4 linked regions of the Homo sapiens genome follow. The protein of the gene in region 1 purifies or fractionates together with the protein of each later gene. This does not show direct contact. Each region holds a gene or a part of one and is shown on either strand. Other genes may lie near its edges.

Region 1 (4,834 bases):
CTCAAGTACAAACTATGTGCCAGGTCCTGTGCTATGCACAGGAATACAAAGATCAAAATGTTTCTTTCTATGTGTAAAAAAAAACCATGATTACACTAATTATTGCCTAAGACTGTATCCCAGGAAAAAAAAAAAAGAAACCTATGATCATAAAAACTACCTTGGATTTTATAAAAAAGTCTAAAAAGGGTAGATTGGATGGAGAAAAGTCCAGATAATAAACGTGGAATTTGAAACTCAGCCATGAACCAATGGTGACCCTGATATTTTGGTAAGATTAATTTGTAATGTGGGTAATCTACATATGACAAATTACCTATTGACTACAGCTATAATTCTTGCCTAGTATAGAGACTCCAAACACATTCAGGCATTCCGAAGCAAGTCAAGTTCATAATACTGATTTGATTTAAATGAGTAATTTATCTTTCTATAAATACATTTGGTTCTTGTTCTCAGAACTAATATTCTTTATAAGGTATTATATTTCTCTAATAGCATTAAAATTTGAGAAGTGTGTAGTACATGTAAATAGCCGATACCTCACCCAAGACTACTCACCAGTCACTGGTAAGAATGAAATGATTTTAAACATGTTATTATTACTATTTTTTTGAGACAGAGTCTCTCTCTGTCACCCAGGCTGGAGTGCAGTGGCACGATCTGGGCTCACTGCAAGCTCCGCCTCCCGGGTTCACGCCATTCTCCTGCCTCAGCCTCCTGAGTAGCTGGGATTACAGGCGCCCACCACCACGCCCGGCTAATTTTTTTGTATTTTTAGTAGAGACGGGGTTTCACCGTGTTAGTCAGGATGGTCTTGATCTCCTGACCTTGTGATCCGCCGGCCTCAGCCTCCCAAAGTGCTGGGATTACAGGCGTGAGCCACCGCGCACAGCCAAACGTTATTTTTAGTATGCTAACTAACTACTAATTTTGAGTAGTGCTTATATTAGAGCACTTTAAAAATATACATGACACCCTTTTCTTTCTATTTGCTTCACAAATAATGAACTGACTGAAAGTATGACCAAGGTATACATCTTAGAATGCAGTCTGTAAATTGGCTTACGGAAAATTCCGTATGTGTCTTATTACCACATTCTTCTAATATGCATACATTTTGTGAAGAGTACCTACTATTCAGGATATGGAAGACTTAGCACTTTACATTGTTACTAGTTACATAGAATACATTTCAAGCATATTAACACTAACAAGAAGCCCTTGAGTATTGACAAAGATTAAATTTCTCATTTTACCCAAATCAGTATTACAAATTTTCTTTTACTTGGAATGTCTGAATTAGAAAAGAAACAATTATGTGTAGCCCTGAAATTTTTAAACTTGAATTTGACAATTTCAACATTCTAGCGATTTAAACATTAACAGTTTCATCTCCTAAAATCTGTTGGAGTACAACTCCATATTTTCTGATGGTTCCATTTTACCTCCTCAGGGACAGCTCTTATATTAACAAAGCCTTTTCTGAAGACGATGAACACACGGCGAGCTCCACAACGTAGAGCAGATGTTGCACAGTCAAAGGCAGTGTCTCCAGCTCCAAGTACAATCACGACTCCCCGTATCGATGGCAATGGAGAGTGACAGGCGCACATTCCTGAATGATGAAAGGAAAACCCCATTTTCAAGTAGAGAAACCATTTCTGCATGACAGCTCAAAAGATACTTGTACTCAAAGCAGTGTAAAATTGCATCTTGCAGTTTTCCAGGATGAAGTGTCACTATCAAATTATTCTGCTTCATTGAAAGACAGTTTTATTCCCATTTTAAAAATATGCTCATATATGTAATTTCATAGTCAGTATCTTTAGTTTCTTTTTTCTTCTAGGATTCCTACAACACATTTTGAGAAGTTTAGGTCATAACAGACTGGAATCAATCAATTAAAACTCTCTTCATCAAAATTGTGCTATCTATCTTTAACTCAGCATAATTTTCCTTTTGCTAGAAGAAAAAAGTGATCCTTATGATCTGTGTTAACGGTTTGCAATATTTCATTATAATACTTTTTTATGTATTACCTTATATAATTTCTAACACATACCTCTGTTATATATTTTGTTAACTTTGAATATTAACGTGCTGAATAAGTGTCCTTTATGTAACTGAAGAATTTCTGAGAACTATTTTCTTGAAATAGTTCAAATAAATCTTTCTCCCTTTCACTGCTTTCCTCTGGTTTTGTTTGTGAAACTGGGCAGTAAAAGAAATATGACTTTCTAAGCATCCATTTCTCAAGGTCATCTCTATTAAGATTTGCTGTCCATATGAAGATCCTTGTAAAAAAAGTAAAATGCAAGTATTCCTTATGTGTTAGGTAGCAGTGTATAATAAGATTAAATAAAACTGTTTATAAGATCAATTACTATAATTTTTTAAATGGTACCAAGAATAGAATAAACCTATAATTTCAATAAGTGTAATCATTTTGCTTGGAAGATTTTGTATTTGGGACACTCTGTAATTTTCAAATACAAGCTAGGTGCACTATGACCTTCCTCAGAAAGGGTTTCAGACATACAAACATCCAGTTCTACTGAGAGGCAGAAGGTGGAGAGGGTATGCATCTTTAGCTGTAAACTTCTGAAGAATAATTTAATATAGAAAGTTTCTTACTGTTTTAAGTCCTGGGAGAAGCATAAAAGTTTGTATCATTTCTACATGTAATTAATGTAGGAATAGCTGTGGCTCAGACCTCTTTAAAAATATACATTTGAAGGATTTAGATTATCTGACTTTGGATAAAATATTACAATTTTCCCCAAAGACAATGACTCTGGTCAGGCCAAACCAAGGTACAACCTTCATTCAGGTGGTTCTTCTTGGGGTGTATAAAGTGATAGGGTGTCTATCAAAGTATTTTATTTTAACATCATAAAATTACTGTTTAAGAGAAGACAGTCAATCTTTCTGCCTGTGTAGATACAAATCATATAAGATATGTGACGATTCATGCCATTTCTTTGAAAAACATCTTCCAATGTTTGTTAAGGACTTGCTTACCTTGAAGCAATTTTTCATGATGTAGTTTAGACATATATATTACAGTGAAAATTCCTTACGATGATACTTTATTGGAAGAATGAACAAACAGATGATTCTGGCAAACTGTTATACCCGGCCTTTTTTTTTTTAATTTTACATTTGGGTCTTAGGCAAGGTTGGGTGTGAGAGCTGAACAATGTGCTGCTGAGCTTGATTTTGATATTAATTTATCATAAATAAAATAGCATACTCACTATTAAGCATAAAAGACAATATGTTATACCTGCTTTACTGCCTTTGGCTACAAGTGGCAAAAAGTCTTTGGATGTATAAAACCCCTGGTCCTGCGTCAGGCCTTGGAAGATGGCATCTTTATTGGGTTCTGGCAAACCTAAGTAATCAAATTTATAAAATATCATTAGCAGGAGGAGGGGCTTTTCCTATTAGATATTAAAACAAAAAAGAAAACTTTAATCTTTGAAATAATGTCATTCTTAGAGGAAAACATCTGTAAGCAAATCAATATAAAATGTACATAATACAGTCTAACGGATCTCAGAGTATATTATGTATATCTTTAATATATAACCAAGTACACATCGTAAATCACACATTAATGTATACCTATAAATATATGGAAACATATGTATATACACACATAAACATATATAACATTACAGGGAAAATCAGGTTATATTCTTGCCTCATATCATAAATAAGTCAGTTTCAGCTACATTAAAGTACTAAATATAAAAAAAGTTAAAAATGGGTACATATTTATCTAATTCCTGAATAAGTAAAATCATTTCTTTTTTAATGAAAGAAAAAAATTAAAGGAAAAAACAATGTATTTTGCCACAATAATTCAACCACTGCTAAATTTAAAAAATATAAATGAATTAAAACGAAAATTATTAACCAAGAAGATGTTTTAATAATTAAATGTCTTTACTGTATAAATTCTCCAAATCAGTAAGGAACATATTAGCTTTTCAATGGAAACATAAAGAATAATAAAAATTGGGAGAAGAAAAAATATAAATCACCTATAAGCACTAAAAATATTAACTCCATTAAGTCATTAAACTGCAAATTAAAAGAATAAAATTGTAACTTCTCTATAAAAAGAAAAATATTTAAGAAAATTAAACTATACACCAAGGGTAGACATGGAACTTGTCATACTCTTTCAGTGGAAATATACATTGGTGTTCAATATCTAGAAAATAGTCTTAAATCTATCTTAAGAAAATACTGACACATGCAAATAAAGGTTTAATGCACAAAAATGATTAATACAGAAAGAGGAAAATAAGATGAGAGAGTACCAGAATGTCAGGTAAATGAAGAAATTAGTTTTACCGTATAAAAGAAAAAGACAACAGAACGAATATTTGAGAAATATGGTATAAGATTGTAATCAAAATACAGTCTTAAATGAACCTGCAGGATTCAAAACTCTGTATAGTATAATTCAAATTTTGTAAAAAAATGTATTAATATAAACCATGTAATCTAAACAGAGATCATTTAGAGTGGTGGTATTAAGGATATTCCAATTTTTATTATTTCCTTATTTTCCAAATTTTCTACATTGTACATATATCAACTATAAATTAGTAAATTCTTACCAAAACTTTGAAAGGAAAATAAATGGCAGACTAAATTTTTTCCAAAGTGTAAATGAAGAAAATCTTATAGCAGTCACCCCATCCAAGGCAAGTAGAGAAATAATTCATCTCAATTCCATAAATGCAGGGGAAAACATGTAGTTTTATTTTATTACTAAGACTCATTCTACCAATGGGTCATTCTAGAGAGGCAGGAG
Region 2 (4,624 bases), on another chromosome or scaffold:
GGAAGTAAGAAATCTTGACTAATCTGGACCATCTCTAAACAACTCAGTGATTATTTTAACAACCTGTTTTCTAGACTTATAGGATGTACCAATGCCTCTTGGCTATCTAATACATATCAGCTTAAAAGGGGTCCCACATCATTCTTCTAATGGCTGTCAATTTATAACCACTTGCACAAAAGTGGCAAAGTGAACATTTTCATCTCTTTTTTATAAGCCCTTTAACTACCAGATCTAAGAAACTCCTGGATATACCAGATATAGAACACCATTTGGTCCCACTCCTGAAATGCTGAAAAGAGAAAAGCAATTATTTTGTTAAAAATAGAAGCCTGCGGTGGCAGGTGGCGTGGTAACTATGTAAAATTTTGTGGCACCACAGTCAAATTGTATAGTGGAGTCAACCAGGGTTGAGGGGAAAACACAGAAAAGTTTTGGATACATGCCTTTCTATTATAATTTATCCCAATAAATTATGAACTCATTTGCCTTCTCCACTCCACTGTGAGCAGCTCCAGTTCTGGGGTGTCTTTTTGTATCCTCATTGCCAAGCACAGCGCCTGACACATAATGGGCACGTTAGAGTCTTTGAAATGAATTCAAAAAACAAATGTTTGAAAGCACATTTTTAAAGACAGTAGTTCTTAATTTCTTCTGATTAAAGCTAAGGACTCTATCCCTAGAAAAATGCAGGTATCCATGCACACGAACATATCTAATATAATTTCAGGGCAATCATGGGACATCTGCTTGCTCTGCCCTTTTCATAGACCCCCCAAGAAAACCAGATGAACAAATTCCGAGGTTTCAATACATAATCATAGGGAGAAGCTGAGAAGCTTTAGAAACGTTCTCCATTGCCAATTTTTTTCTTTTCTTTTTTTTTTTTTTTACAAAAAACATGTTTCTTTCATTTACCTCATGCAGAAACTCTCAGTACACTAAGAAAGGACTCTCATGTAGAAATCTGCCCCCCGCAGGTGTAGAAATAACTTATCCACATAGTTTTAGGTTTAGTTACAAATTAGGTATTTTGCAGTTACCATAGAAAAAGGCATCTTTATAACAAAAGATAATTTTAAAGAAGGTATATTTATTTAACAAACATGTATGAACTATTCATTAACAATCCAGGACTGTGGAGGACAGGGGACAGAAACAAGCCTCGAAGAGATCACAATATGGTGGAGTGCATGCATGGCACACCTGGCTATCTGAATCAGACGTTTGCCTCTGTGTGTGTGATGAAGACAGTAGTGAGTGGAATGGACAGAGAGTAACTGTAAATTCTGTAGGGAGGAAAACGAACGTTTACTCATTCTCTAACAGTCTTTTGCTTTACTATGGTCATATACAACAGTTAATCTCCCATCCTCAGTTCCCAGATACCCACCAGAAAACCGGTAATTAACCTCTGGATAAACTTTCACTGATTACAGATGAGGAGCGAGGCAACCTTAAGCCATAAACAATATTCCTACAGTATGGGGGAGCCGCAATCATCTGAATGCCAGTTTTCAGAGCCAGCCTGTGAACGTTTCATCTGAGGGATGTTTTCCCGATGATCATCTTATCATTATCGCATCTTAAAAGCTGGAGAAGCCCTAAAAGCCGGTTTGGCACAAATGTCAACTCAAGGGAGGAATGCCCTCTGTAACACTCCTGGCAGCTACAGGCTTTCCACAGCAGCGGAATGTATTTTTAACCAACAAAAAGTATTAGAAACAGCTTCCTCGTACTGAACTAAATCCTCCTCATATTTTCCAACCGTTTCTCTAATGGAATTTAATTGTTTCCATTTGGTTTCTGAAGCAATACAGAATTAGCCTATTCTCTCTCCCATTTCCTTCAAGAATTTGAAAACAATTATCATCTGTATTTCTGAATTATCTCCAGACTGAACTTCCCTAATTCTTTTTTATTTTTCTTTTGAGAAGTATTTTCAAAGTTATCACCATCTTGTTACTGCTCCTGCAAACACTGTACTACTTGGCCAAAGTCTGCTTAAAATGTGATATCTAGAAAGGAACACAATATTCCAACAGTAATTGATCTTACACTGGAGTCCGGGGGGATTATTCTTTTGATCTAGGCACATACTTCCATCAACACATTCTTAAAAAGCCTTAGTTCTCGCCTCCCGTCCCCCTCCCCCGGTGTGCTGTACCATGAGCTGATATTGGAATTTGGCCAAATAAAACTGCCAACTCTTTTTTCCTGAATACTACTATCAAGTCAGGCTTCCCCTTCTTTTACCTGGGTAATGGAATGTGTCTAATTTCATTTTGAGCTTGTCTCCACATTGAAATATTTTTAAACATTATTATTTTTTTACTTTTGAGACAAGAGTTTCACTCTGTTGCCCAGGCTGGAATGAAGCGGCACAATGTCGGCTCACTGCAACCTCCACCTCCGGGGTTCAAATGATTCTTCTGCCTCAGCCTCCTGAGTAGCTGGGAGTACAGGCATGTGCCACAACACCTGGCTAATTTTTGTATTCTTTAGTAGAGACGGGTTTCGCCATGTTGGCCAAGCTGGTCTTGAACTCCTGAACTCAGGTGATCCACCCATCTTGGCATCCCAAAGTGCTGAGATTACAGGCGTGACCCACCTTGCCCGGCCAAAATAATTTTAGATGTTAATAACATCATCATACTTAATAATTCCAGCCCTATTATCTGTACATTTGATACCTTTTTATGGGACTTTTTTTTCATTTTTAGCCAAATGACTTGAAATTACTCCCAGTTTAACGTTAATCATCATGCAACTATCTCAGACTGTTTCAATAGCTAGTAATCCACCTGGATAACTATTATCCAGTCACATTCTCCATCTTAGCCACAAAGATATCAACAGCAATGCGTGTCTTGCTGGACGCAATGAACAAACTATTTCTAGCCAGTTTCTCTCATGACAAATGCTAGAGACATTTTATCATAGGAGTACAATTGAGGTGAGCCTCTGGGGTCTATGAAATATGCAGCTAGTACAGGTTCCAGCTCATGTGAGCAGAATAAGGGAGTCTATTTCCTGTTCACCCCTTCCCCTTGTACGTACATCGTGGACTAGATGTGTTGAACCTGTATTTTCTCAGGAAAGGGAACTACAAGGTGAATTCAACCAAATCAAAACTCAGGAATCACGGTGTGGTGTGGGGGTGTGTGCATCGCTGTGTACATTACCTCAATTTTTCAAATTTTGTTTTGTTACAGACGTACAGCATTATTGTGTTTGTTAAAAAAGGCTATTTTGGTCTAATATTTACATCTTATAACCTTTACCTTTTGCCTTGATACAGCTGATACTAGATAATCACTTAGGTGGATCTGTTTCCAGTGGGAAATTTCTCTATTAAAGGTGACTCAAAAAATAAACTTTTTGGACGTTGACTGTTTTTCGAAGAACTGAGGGTATGTATGTCTTTCCTTTTCCTTTTTTTTTTATTTTATTTTAAGACAGGGTCTCTGTCACCCAGGCTGGAGTGCAGTGGCGTGATTATGGCTCATGGCAGCCTTGACCTTCTTGGGCTCAAGCAATCCTCCCACCTCAGCCTCCCAAGTAGCTGGGACTACAGGCATGTGCCACCATCCCTAGCTAATTTTTTTAGTTTTTGTAGAGACAGGGTCTCACTGTGTTGCTCAGGCTGGTCTCAAACTCTTGAGCACAAAGGATCCTCCTGCCTCAACCTTCCAAAGTGTTAGGATTACAGGTGTGAGCCACCACATTCATTTCTTTGTTGCTTTTATTCTCACCACACATTTATAAGAGAAGGCATGTTCAATTTCAGTGGGCTATCCAATTTCAGATGGGAGACATCTAACTGTAATGTGTTGATTTGAGGGAAGAAGCTGTGGTCACTGCATCTATTCAAATAAAATGGATTTTCTCTTTTAACATTCTTTGGGGGCTCAGTTAACTATGTTTAAACCCTATTTGAGGAATCAGTATTCGTTATGGACTGAATGTTTGTGCCCCATCCCCTACATTGAAGCCGTAACAGCCAATGTGATGGGGTTAGGGGGTGGGGCCTTTGTTGGGGGTGACTGGGTTTAGATAAAGTCATGAGGAAGGAACTCTCATGATGGGATTCCTGCTCTCGTAAAAAGAGACACTCTAGGGCTTGCTCCCTGCCACTGCTGCCTGCAGAAGTTTCTAAACCCTTTATGTTCCACATCTGCCTCCTGTCTCTTCCCATGGCTCTCTACAGAGCTATTTGTAACATGTCTACCTGACACTTTTGGGGATGTGGTCAGTAAAAGAGGAAGAGGGGCCTCACCACGAACCAAATTTACCAGCATGTGGATTGTGGGACTTCCCAGCTTCCAGAACTGTAAGAAATGTCTGCTTTTGAAGCCACCCAGTCTGATATTTTGTTATAGAAGCCTGAAGTATGATGGTATTTTAATGTAAATTTTAATGTAAATTTTAATCCACCTGTGTATGATAGAAAATGAATAAATGGTAAACACACACTGGCCTAGTGGGGAGGCAGAATCTCCACAGACCTATAATTCATACATAAAAGCTAAAGGTAAAATGGTAAAGTAGAAAATTGAGTCACTGCCTGCTACTTAAGGCATTTACAAGTACAATGATCATATCAGTAATTTTTCTTTGAAGA
Region 3 (4,834 bases), on another chromosome or scaffold:
TCTCCACCTCCTGGGTACAAGCGATCTTCCTGCCTCAGCCTCCTGAGTATCTGGGATTATAGACGCACGCCACCACACCCAGCTAATTTTTATATTTTTAGTAGAGACGGAGTTTCACCATGTTGGCCAGGCTGGTCTTGAACACCTGCCCTTGTGATCTGCCACCTTGTTCTCCCAAAGTGCTGGGATTACAGGTGTGAGCCACCATGCCCGGCCCCGGTTTTGTTAAAGATTTAAGTGAACTAGTGATAGAACAAAAAGATTAACTGGAGTAGGGTAAAGGATAAGTACCGTGGGTCTGGTAGACTTGATTTGTTTTTGTTTTTGTTTTCGTTTTTGAGGTAAGTCTCGCTTTGTCGCCCAGGCTGGAATACAGTGGCACGATCTTGGCTCACTGCACCCTCCACCTCCCAGATTCAAACGATTCTCCTGCCTCAGCCTGCCTAGAAGCTGGGATTACAGGTGCATGCCACCACTCCCAGCTAATTTTTGTATTTTTAGTAGAGACAGGGTTTCACTATGTTGGCCAGGCTGGTCTTGAACTCCTGACCTCAAGTGATCTGCCCGCCTCAGCCTCCCAAAGTATTGGGGTTACAGGCGTGAGCCACTGTGCCTGGCTGGTAGACTTAATTTGAATCCACTTCCACAAATTATTAACTGAGTTACTTAAGGATTTTATTTATCTTGTGCTCTTCAAAGGGGATAATAATAGCATCTACTTTGTAAGGCTGTCGTGAAGATGAAATGAAGTAAATTACGATGCTTGGCATGTAGTAAACCCTCGGTGAAAGGTGGTCGTTACTAATAAACACATCATGTTTCTTTATTAGTCATCTTTAAGAAAGTTTAAAGAAACTGTCATTTAGTGCCTTGTGATAGAAGTGATTAGAAGTAGCCACAGGCCTCCTGAGATAGACTAGGATTCAGGAGATCAATATTAGAGTCCAGAACTTACTAACTAGTGTGTGACTTGGGCAAGTCATAAAGCCTGAGGGTTTCTGATTTTATCATCTCTCCATTTCTACTTGTCATGGGTCGTGAATTACGGAGTCAAATCATTATGAAAATATATGTGACGTGATTTGTTGAAATGTCAAGGAGACATTGCCTAGTAAAACCAAAATGACCCATTATTTTTAGTATTATTTAATACTGATGATTAAGTATTAAATTGAAAAACATTGCAGACAATCCCCTCAACCTGTGTCAGAATTCATATTGAGAGAGATACAGAAACTGAATTGAAAACATTTTCAGAGTAGATTTTGTTTGTCTTGTAGGCATTTTGTTCCCAACATCACCTTTGGTCACCCTGTGGTAGAAAGCCTTCGAAAGCAGCTAGGCCAGGACCCTTTCTTTGGTAAGTGGGTGTTACGCCATCTGAAGCTGGATGTGTTGCTCAAGTAAAGGAAAACTGGATGGTTGATTTTAACTTCCAAGTTCATCTGGCACCCTTTCCCCAACTTTCCTATCCTGGGTCTTCATTGGCCTGACTCCAGTAACAAGCCAAACTTCTTCCTGCCTCTGGGCCTTGGCTAATCTGCATGGAAAGGTAGTAGCTTGGCTGGCTGCCTCATCTTTGGGCCTCAAGTCATTTGTCATTTCCTCAGAGAGGCCTTTTTGAGCGTCCTCTCCCAAATTAACCTTTATCCAATTATCTTATCACCTGTTGATTTTCCTCTGAGAACTTCCTTTGATCTGCGATTACTTTTATTAGACTATAAACTCTCTGAGGGCGGGGATTGAATCCAGTTTGTTTACTGTGGTTTTCCTAAAGCTAAGCATAGACATGATCAGGGCTCAGTGTAATTGTTAAGTGAATTTATGAATCAGTTGATTTATGGTCCAGAAGCCATTTATTTTGTGCAAATTGGAGCTTTCTACAAGTGGTGCCTAAATATTCACTCCAATGTCCTAGTACAATGTAAATTAAGATTTTTAAGATTACTTAGTGGCCTACAAGTGATTTATGTTAAGTTAGCAATGTCTCACCTGCCAGATCTCTTAAACATGAGAAATTTTACACATTTTTATAAATAGTGTTATTTATTTTTTTCTTTTTTTTAAAATAGAGACTGAGTTTCGCCATGTTTCCCGGGCTAGTCTCAAACTCCTGGGCTCAAGCAATCCACCTGCCTTGGCCTCCCAAAGTGCTAGGATTACAGGCTTGAGCCACCAGCCTAGCCATAAATAGTTTTTTTAACGTAGCTTACAATTTAGTAGAACTTAGATTCTTTTTAATCAGCATATTGCTGACCAGTTTTATGAAGGACTCTGTGCTGTTCACTATGGTAGTCATAAGCCACATGTAGCTATTAAAATTAAATAAACTTAAGTTCATGACCAGAATGGCCAACATGGTGAAACCCTGTCTCTACTAAAAATTCAAAAATTAATCAGGCGTGGTGGCAAACACCTATAATCCCAGCTACTCAGGAGGCTGAGGCATGAGAATCACTTGAACCTGGGAGGTGGAGATTGTAGTGAGCTGAGGTCATTCCACTGCACTCCAGCCTGAGTGACAGTGTGACACTCCATGTCAAAAAAAAAAAATTTTTTTTAAATTAAATAACATAAACTTAAAAATTCGGTTTCTTATTCACGTTAATCACATTGCAAGTCTTCAGTAGTCACATATTGTACAGTGCAGCTATGGGACATTTCCAATATCACAGAAAATTCTGTTGAATATAGTCTCCAGCCTCTGTGTAGGATCTATCTACTTTGAGTTCACCAAAGAAAATGTACATTATTACCTCATTTATGTGGCATGAGGAAACAATGTTCCACCAATATATTCACCATTTTGAAATTTCCATATAATGGGATATAGTCCTCTGATTATCTAAACTTTCTTTTAAGCCATGATTAGCTTATATAGCAGATACCGTGACTTTTCCTATGAATTACGGTTGTTCTCATGACCATGAGAGGTAGATGAAATAAATAGCATTGTTTTCTCCCACTGTACAACCAATGGCCAGAATCCTCGCTTCTGGCTTGCTTGTGTGAATTTTTTTAATGCTTGCTTTTTTTCCCCTTTTCGCTCCCTTTTATTTGGGCTCCCATTGTCACACCATACTATTGTCTATATCCCTTCCTGTCAGTGCCTTTCCTTTTAGCAATCCTGTGTTGCTGCCACCACACACAATCTGCTTTTTCTTCTTGTTTTTAATTTGTTGATAAACTTGCTAATTAATCTTTCTAGAATTTGGTCTAAAAGATAAATGAACTCCATTCACTTTAATGTTTGGGTTTTGTGACCCTTGTTTTTTGGTTTTTCGCTTTTTGTTGTTGTTGTTGTTGTTGCTTTAAGAGACAGACTCCGTCTATTACCCAGGCAAGAGTACAGTGGTACAGTCATAGCTCACTGCATCCTTGAACTCCTGGGCTCAAGCAATCCTCCCGCCACAGCTATAGCTAAGACTACAGGTGTGTGCCACCACAACCGGCTATTTTTTTTTTTTTTTTTTTTTTTTACTTTTTGTAGAGATGGGATCTCCCTGTATTGCCCAGGCTAATCTTGAATGCTTGGGCTCAAGCCATCCTCCTGCCTTGGCTTCCCAAAGTGTTGTGATAGTAGGTGTAAGTCACTGAGCCCGACTACCTTTGTTTTTTATATTGAGAAACATTTGTTTAATTCTTGGATTTTGGTTGTTGGATAATTGATACATGAATGTATTCTAGGACCTAGATTACATGTTGTGTTGTATATGTAACGCTAACATTCTTAACTGTTCAGTTTTCATATTGAGTAGAAATAAATGTCTAAGAAATACAGTGATGGGAAAAGTCTGTTCCTGTTATTGTCTAAATCAGTGATCCTCAAGTATGTTGTATAAGGACCCACACAAATCCTTAAGACCCTTTCGGGTCATCCATGAGAGTATATCAAAACTATTTTCATAATCCTAAGAAATTATTTGCCATTATTTCTACTGATGGTACAAAAACATTGATGAGTTAGTTTGCTGGTGCCTTAACCAACTCAAGGCAGGGACTGTATCAGGAGTTATTCTTCATCATCATGCATTTGCAATAAATATCCTTGATGAAGCAGTAGAAATTAATAAATCTTGGTCCCTGAATACATGCCTTTTTAATATTTTGTGTGGCAAAGTAGGAAGTGCATATAAAGTGCTTGTGCTGCATTGCTGCATACTGGAACATAATGGTTTTCTCAAGGAAAACCACTTGCACCATAGAGGTGTGATCTGAACTAGCTGCTTTCCTCCAGAACACTATGTTTGTTTGAAAGAACAACTGACAGATCAACTATGGTTTTTCAGACCTGGCTATTTTAATGACATTTAAAAAATATTAACTAAATGAGGCTGTCTCTTCAAGGAAAGATACCTTGTCAGTTTTTGTTCCCAAAATTAGAATTTTAAAAAACTTGTGTATCTTACCACTCTGGGTTTGATAGCGTCCCAACAGTTAACAAGCTTTTCTGATGAGATCTGTAGTTATTTTACCAAATGTGATTTTGGGGTACTATGGAATGAAATCTGTCACTATTTGTAAGATGTGTGTAACTCAGTAAATCAGTACTTAAAAGACCCATTCAAAATACAAGACAAACAATGGGTTTTAATGTAACAAAGAATGAAAAGCTCATTGATAGGGTTTACAGAGTGCACACTGCAGCTAACCTTTATAAAATTACCACCCAGCACATTTAAGATAGGCTAGGCTAAGCTATGATGTTTGGTGTGTTAGGTATATTAAATGCAGTTAGAGATAACAGTATTTTCAATTTAGATTGAGTTAATTGGGATGTAACCCCATTGTAAGTTACAGAACATCTGTATTACAACAGATTAGATACAGAACA
Region 4 (5,595 bases), on another chromosome or scaffold:
GGTGATGAAGGCACAGAGGCAGGCACGTCCAAAGAGCCAGGGGCCAGGCGCGGCGGCTCACATCTGTAATCCCAGCGCTTCGGGAGGCTGAGGCAGGAGGATTACTTGAGGCCAGGAGTTCAAGACCAGCCTGGGCAATATAGCCAGAACCCATCTCAATTTAAAAAAGAAACAATATGCTGAGTGAAAGTAGCCAGACACAGGCCAGACGCAGTGGCTCGCGCCCATAACCCCAGAACTTTGGGAGGCTGAAGAGGGCAGATGGATCACTTGAGGTCAGGAGTTACACACCAGCCTGGCCAACATGGCAAAACCCCGTCTCTAGAAAAAATATGAAAATCGGCTGGGTGTGGGGGTGCACCCCTTTAACCCCAGCTACTTGGGAGGCTGAGGCAGGAGGATCACTTGAACCTGGGAGGCGGAGGTTGCAGTGAGCTGAGATCGCACCACTGCACTCCAGCCTGGGCGACAGAGCTAGACTCTGTCTCAAATAAATAAATAAATAAATAAATAGATAAAATTAAATTAAAAATAAGAAAATTAGCCAGGCATGGTCCCAGCTACTCGGGAGGTTGAGGTGGGAGGATTGCTTGAGTCCAGGTGTTCAAGAATGCAGTGAGCTAAGACGGTGCCACTGCACTCCAGCCTGGGCGACAGAGCGAGACTCCAACTCTGGAATAAAAGCAAAGGGCCCAGGCACCCATACAAGCGCATGTCCCCACACCCTGGTGCACACCCGACCCCCATGACACTCCGGGTTTTCCATCAGCCAGGGTCTACAGAGGCCCCCACGCCCCAACACCCATGGAAGCCTGTACTAGCTTCTTCCTACTGCCGTAACAAATTGCCACAAACTCTGGGGCTTAAAACACCAGGAATTTGTTTTCTCACGGCTCTGGAGGCCGGACTCCGACATCAAGGTGTGGGCTGGGCCTTGCTGCCTAAGGAGGTTCTCGGGGAGGGTCCTTCCTGCCTCTTCCAGCCCAGGACACCCTTGGCTTGTGGCTGCACCTCTCTGATCTCTGCCTCCAAGGGCACATGGCCTTCTCCTCTGTCCTTCTGCACGTGGGCACCTACTAAGCTCCTACCATATCTACTGAACCCCAACTGAAAGGCCCTTATCTGCAGAACTCCAACCATGTGCTGGTATCTACCGAGCCCAGTTCCAGGCACCAGGGGTGCAGCAGTGAACAAAACAGAGCCCCCACCCTCTGGAGCTGACAGTCCAGTGGGGACAGAACCAAGTCAGCCACAGCTTGGGTAACTCCACACCCACCGGAGCTGGGGGCAGAGGGCCTCCTCTCTCTCCCGCCTCCTTCCTGTTCTGGCCTCTGCACTCTCTGGAGCCACCCTGGGCTTTTATTCATTTACCTGTTCCCTGTCTGTCTCTGTGACCGGAACATTGCTCCCTGCATCTGGAGGCTGAGGGGAACTGGCACAGGACTCAGTGCTGGGTACACAGCAGGTACTCAATAACTGTCAGTGCACTGAGGAGATACACAGCGACCACCGTGCCAGTGCATGCACATGCACCTGTGCTCACCCTGGGCACTGCCCACAGGCACGTCTGAGCCGGCAGGGAGTACAGAGAAGCTCCCCAGGACCAGAGGGCCCCAAATCTCCGGCGACACCAGTGATCCATGAAGCTGGTGGCCAGCAGCCGGTGGCAACGCCTCTCCCCACCCCAGAGGCTTTTCGGGCTGGCCCCAGCTTGGATGCCTGGGCTCAGCCACCAGCCAGCCTCATCCAGGACCCTGCAGCCCCGGGGGTGGGGTCTCGCCTGCCTTCCTCCCCATTCCGGGTCCTTCTCCCAGTCTCCAGGTCCCTGGCCCTCTCCTTCAAAGCTCAGCGTCAGGCTTTCCATGTGGAAGCACGCACCTTGTGCCCAGCATCTTCTGCCTGCAAGGGCAACAGAGGCACGTTCCTGGCGAGGGAGAGCGGCTGCTGCCCAAACGCCAAATGGAAGCCCCTGGTGGCTCCACGAATGCATGTCACAACCTCAGAGCAGGGGCCGAGGCTGTTGCTCAAGACCCCAGCTTCCTGCAGAGAGTGGGACTGGCAGGACAGTGTCCAGGGGCACAGGGGAGGAGCCCCGGATCTGCGCAACGGGCTGGGGCTGTGTGACCTGAGCAAGGACCCCTCCTCTTAGCCTCGGTTCTCTGGTCTGCACAGCTGCGGCCTGACAGAGGCCCCAGGTGCTGCCTGTGGCTCCTCCCAACCCCGAGACCTTCCCACCAAAAACACACTCAGGAGAACGCTTTGCCCAGAAGGTGCCTGGGCTGCAGGTGGCCGTTGAGGGCCCCCCTTCCTGAGCGTCTGGCCCCCAGCCCCGACACACAGATCTCTGTCCCAGCAAGCCTGGTCCCAGTCATTTAGCCAAAGAGCGTTTGCTGAGTGAATAAACAATGGAGCAGGTCCAGGCTCGGGCCAAGATTCAGCAACGGGCAGGGCCAGCTGCCCAGCTACACACGCCAAGACCCTCCTGGGGAGAGACAGCCTAGTCCTCAACCCCTGCCACCTCCTGCTGCTCCCAGAGATGGGGGCTGTTCTCCATCTCGGGCCCTATCACCCGGGGCCTCAGAGGCCCGGCTGGCAGCAGCACCTGGGGTCTGGGGGCTTCCTGCCCTGCACTGGCCGCTCCCCCACAGTGGCCCTGGCCACATCCCCCCAGGGGCCTGAACAGGCTGGGGGAGGGTCAGTGCCCATACGAGGGCTATCCAGGGACCCCATCTGGTGGCCAGGCCCCTGGGCAGTGAGAGCCTCGGAGGGCCCAAAGAGGCAGCTCTGCTGGCCTTTCCCAGGGACACAGAGGGGGACTGGACTGAAGCCAGGGCCCAGGAGCCGCCCTGAGTCACGTCTGACTCAGCCGGCGGGCGGGGGATGCCATGGCTCTGGCCCAGCTGCATTCGGTGTCCGGGCACACTGAGGCCACTGAGGACAGCCTCGGGGGGCTGCACGGTGGGCTGTGCCTGCCCAGTCCCACGCCTCGGCTCCCCATCCCCCAGCCGCCCGGGCCTCAGTTTCCCCGCCCGTGTCAGCGCGCAGCCGAACAGCAGAAGAATCAAAGGGCGCCAGGCAGGACTTACATGAGGTCGGGCCGGTGGCGGTGCAGGATGGCGCAGAAAGCCAGGCCGTCGCGGAACGACGTGGTCATGTTGCAGATATTCACGTCGCGGTAGCCCTCGCACTGCTGCCGGCACCACTGTTGCAGCGCCCTGATGGCCGCCATGTGGGCGGCGCGCCCGCCGCGCGGCGGAACCGCCCTCCGACACCTTCCCGCGGCTGTGCCGCGACCGCCCGGCCGGCGGGACAGACGCTGGGACCGCTACGGAACCGCCAGACCCACGGCGCCCAGCCCCAGCTGAGCCGGACTGAGGGCGACGAGTGCCGGGTCCCTAAGAGAAGCCGAGCCCGGCCCCGCCCCCGCCGGCCCCGCCTCCTTGTAGGCCCCGCCCCCAGCCGCCAAGTCCTGCCTCCGGATAGGCCCCGTCCTCACACCTCCCAGCCCCGGCATAGGCTCCCGCCCAGGCAGGCCCCACCTCCCGACAGGCCCCGCCCCCAGCCGCCGGGTCCTGCCTCCTGATAGGCCCCGTTCCCACGCCTCCTGGCCCCGGCACAGGCTCCCGCTCCAGGCAGGCCCCGACTCCGGACAGGCCCCGCCCCCAGCCTCCAGGTTTTGCCTCCCGAGAGGCCCCGCCCCACGCCGCCCGGCCCCAGTACGGGCTCGCGCCCTAGGCACGTCCCGCCTCCTGGTAAGTCCCGCCCCCACGCTGTCAGGTCCCGCCCGACAGGCCCCGCCCCACGCCGCCTGGCCCCTCCCCAGGCCCCGCCCCGCCGCTGAGGGCCGAGACCCCCAACCGGTGAAGGGGCGCGGTCTGCTTGGGGGTCCTGCCATTCTGGACCCCTGCGGAGACCTGGAATTTTCTTTTTCGCCGCCCCACCTCCCACCACCATCTCACCCCACCGCCATGGAGAAGAGGCAGGAAAGGCCGTTGACAAACGGGGACACTGAGGCTCGAACACCCTGCCCTGTCTAGGGCCTCAGCCCTCGGCAGCCCGGCCTCCCGGGGAGCAGGAGGCGCCTTGTGTTTCAGGGTTTCAAAGGACGTCCGCATCTGGTTTCTCTTTCCAGGCCGCTACATGCCAGCGGGGGTTCCAGGCAAGGCAGAGGTGAGGCCTGGGCATTGCCAGAGGAGAAACTGAGGCCAGGAAGGGGGCCGTGGAGCCGGAGTTGCACAGCTGGCCTGTGCTTTTCTTCTGGGGGCCTGTGGGCAGGATCTGTTCCTGGGGCAGGAGATTCCTCAGGCTGACTTGCAGGGTAGTTCCAATTTTCCACTTTGAGCTGTGACAGAAGAAATAAGGAAAGTCCCTCTGCTGGGGCCCTAAATTATCCCAGACTGGCCCCTGGCCCCGTTATCCTTGGGGAACCTTGTCTGTGGCCACGGGGGCTGGACGAGGGCGGAATCACTGACACCAGCCATGTGAGGGGGGCCTACCCTCCTGGCTGTGGGGCCAGGGCTTGTCTGGGCAGGGCCTGCAGGAAGGAAGGTGTTTTCCCGCAGTAGCCCCTGGCAGGGAGTCAGGGCAGCTTCTCTGTGCCCCTTGGGAGGAGGAGAAACTGAGGTCTTCCAACCCCAGCCAATGGTGCTGTTCCAGATCTTTTCTGAGGCTGGTCCCTGGTGAGACACCGTAGTGTTCATGGCCAGCTGCCTAAGTGTCAGTGAGGCCTGTGTGTAGGTGGTGAGCTCCCCGTCACCAGGGGCATGCAAGCAGCTGCTAGGCAGGGAGCCCTTGTGGCCTGGGAATGTGGCTGGCCCTAACCGCTGCTCCGCCACAGTCCCTGACCTGCGGATGTCAGGGGATATCGTGCCAGCACAGCCGGAGCCGGTCCTGGCACCGGGTTTTCTTGACTCCCAGGGCAACGGTTAGGAGAACCGGAAGAGCTGGAAAAGAAGGGAGAGATCAAGAAGCAGAAGCAGCGGGGCAGTGGGCGGGGGGAATTAGTGGGGGATGGGGGACACAGGGGTGGACAGGCGTTAGGGCCCAGCTCCCTTAAAAGGAGTGGTGTGGGAGGTGGCCTGGGTTTCACTTTTATCGTGAACTTTTACCACTGCACACTTAAAAAGCCATCTCACTGGTCACCCCGTGGCCCATCCTGCGCGGCCCCCCTCTGGCACCAGTGAGCTGGGAGGCAGCATTTGTGACGTTTGCCCACCAGCACCTCACACACCATGTCCCTCCAGGGTCCCCGAAGCCAGGAGCCAGGACACCCCCAAACAAATGGTCCTTTCTCCCCACTGCCCACGGCTGCCACCCTCCCATCCAGACGACCTGTCCCCCCGCCTCTGCCCACAGGGCTGCCTCCTGCCCCTCCAGCCACCACAGTCCACCCTCCCCAGCAGCCCGAGGGATCTTTCTAGAAGGCCTGACCAAGCCCTTCCCCTGCCGGGAGCCTCCCAGGCTGTCCTTCGAATAAAGTCCAGGTTGCTTATCAGACTTTCCGCAGGCTTATCACGCTGCATCTCCCCGGCCGCACCCTGCCACGCTGACCCCAGAGCTTTGCGCCCGCACCGGCCCCCAGCACCCGCCCCTCCT

What was found. Proteins that work in one complex are often made in the same cells at the same time.
Region 2: the proteins of DPYD (region 1) and NLN fractionate together in Homo sapiens (co-fractionation; one large-scale study listed by BioGRID). This does not show direct contact.
Region 3: the proteins of DPYD (region 1) and RPE fractionate together in Homo sapiens (co-fractionation; one large-scale study listed by BioGRID). This does not show direct contact.
Region 4: the proteins of DPYD (region 1) and MICALL2 fractionate together in Homo sapiens (co-fractionation; one large-scale study listed by BioGRID). This does not show direct contact.

The regions. Positions count from the first base shown.
Region 1 is NC_000001.11:97,591,770-97,596,603, forward strand, and holds part of DPYD (dihydropyrimidine dehydrogenase [NADP(+)]), read right to left. Parts: intron 3,398-4,834; coding exon 3,290-3,397; intron 1,619-3,289; coding exon 1,449-1,618; intron 1-1,448.
Region 2 is NC_000005.10:65,825,733-65,830,356, reverse strand, and holds the end of NLN (neurolysin, mitochondrial), read right to left. Parts: 3' UTR 1,074-4,624; downstream 1-1,073. UniProt on the Homo sapiens protein: Hydrolyzes oligopeptides such as neurotensin, bradykinin and dynorphin A. Acts as a regulator of cannabinoid signaling pathway by mediating degradation of hemopressin, an antagonist peptide of the cannabinoid receptor CNR1.
Region 3 is NC_000002.12:210,008,377-210,013,210, forward strand, and holds part of RPE (ribulose-phosphate 3-epimerase), read left to right. Parts: intron 1-1,280; coding exon 1,281-1,360; intron 1,361-4,834. UniProt on the Homo sapiens protein: Catalyzes the reversible epimerization of D-ribulose 5-phosphate to D-xylulose 5-phosphate.
Region 4 is NC_000007.14:1,456,098-1,461,692, forward strand, and holds the start of MICALL2 (MICAL-like protein 2), read right to left. Parts: upstream 3,374-5,595; 5' UTR 3,230-3,373; coding exon 3,087-3,229; intron 1-3,086. UniProt on the Homo sapiens protein: Effector of small Rab GTPases which is involved in junctional complexes assembly through the regulation of cell adhesion molecules transport to the plasma membrane and actin cytoskeleton reorganization.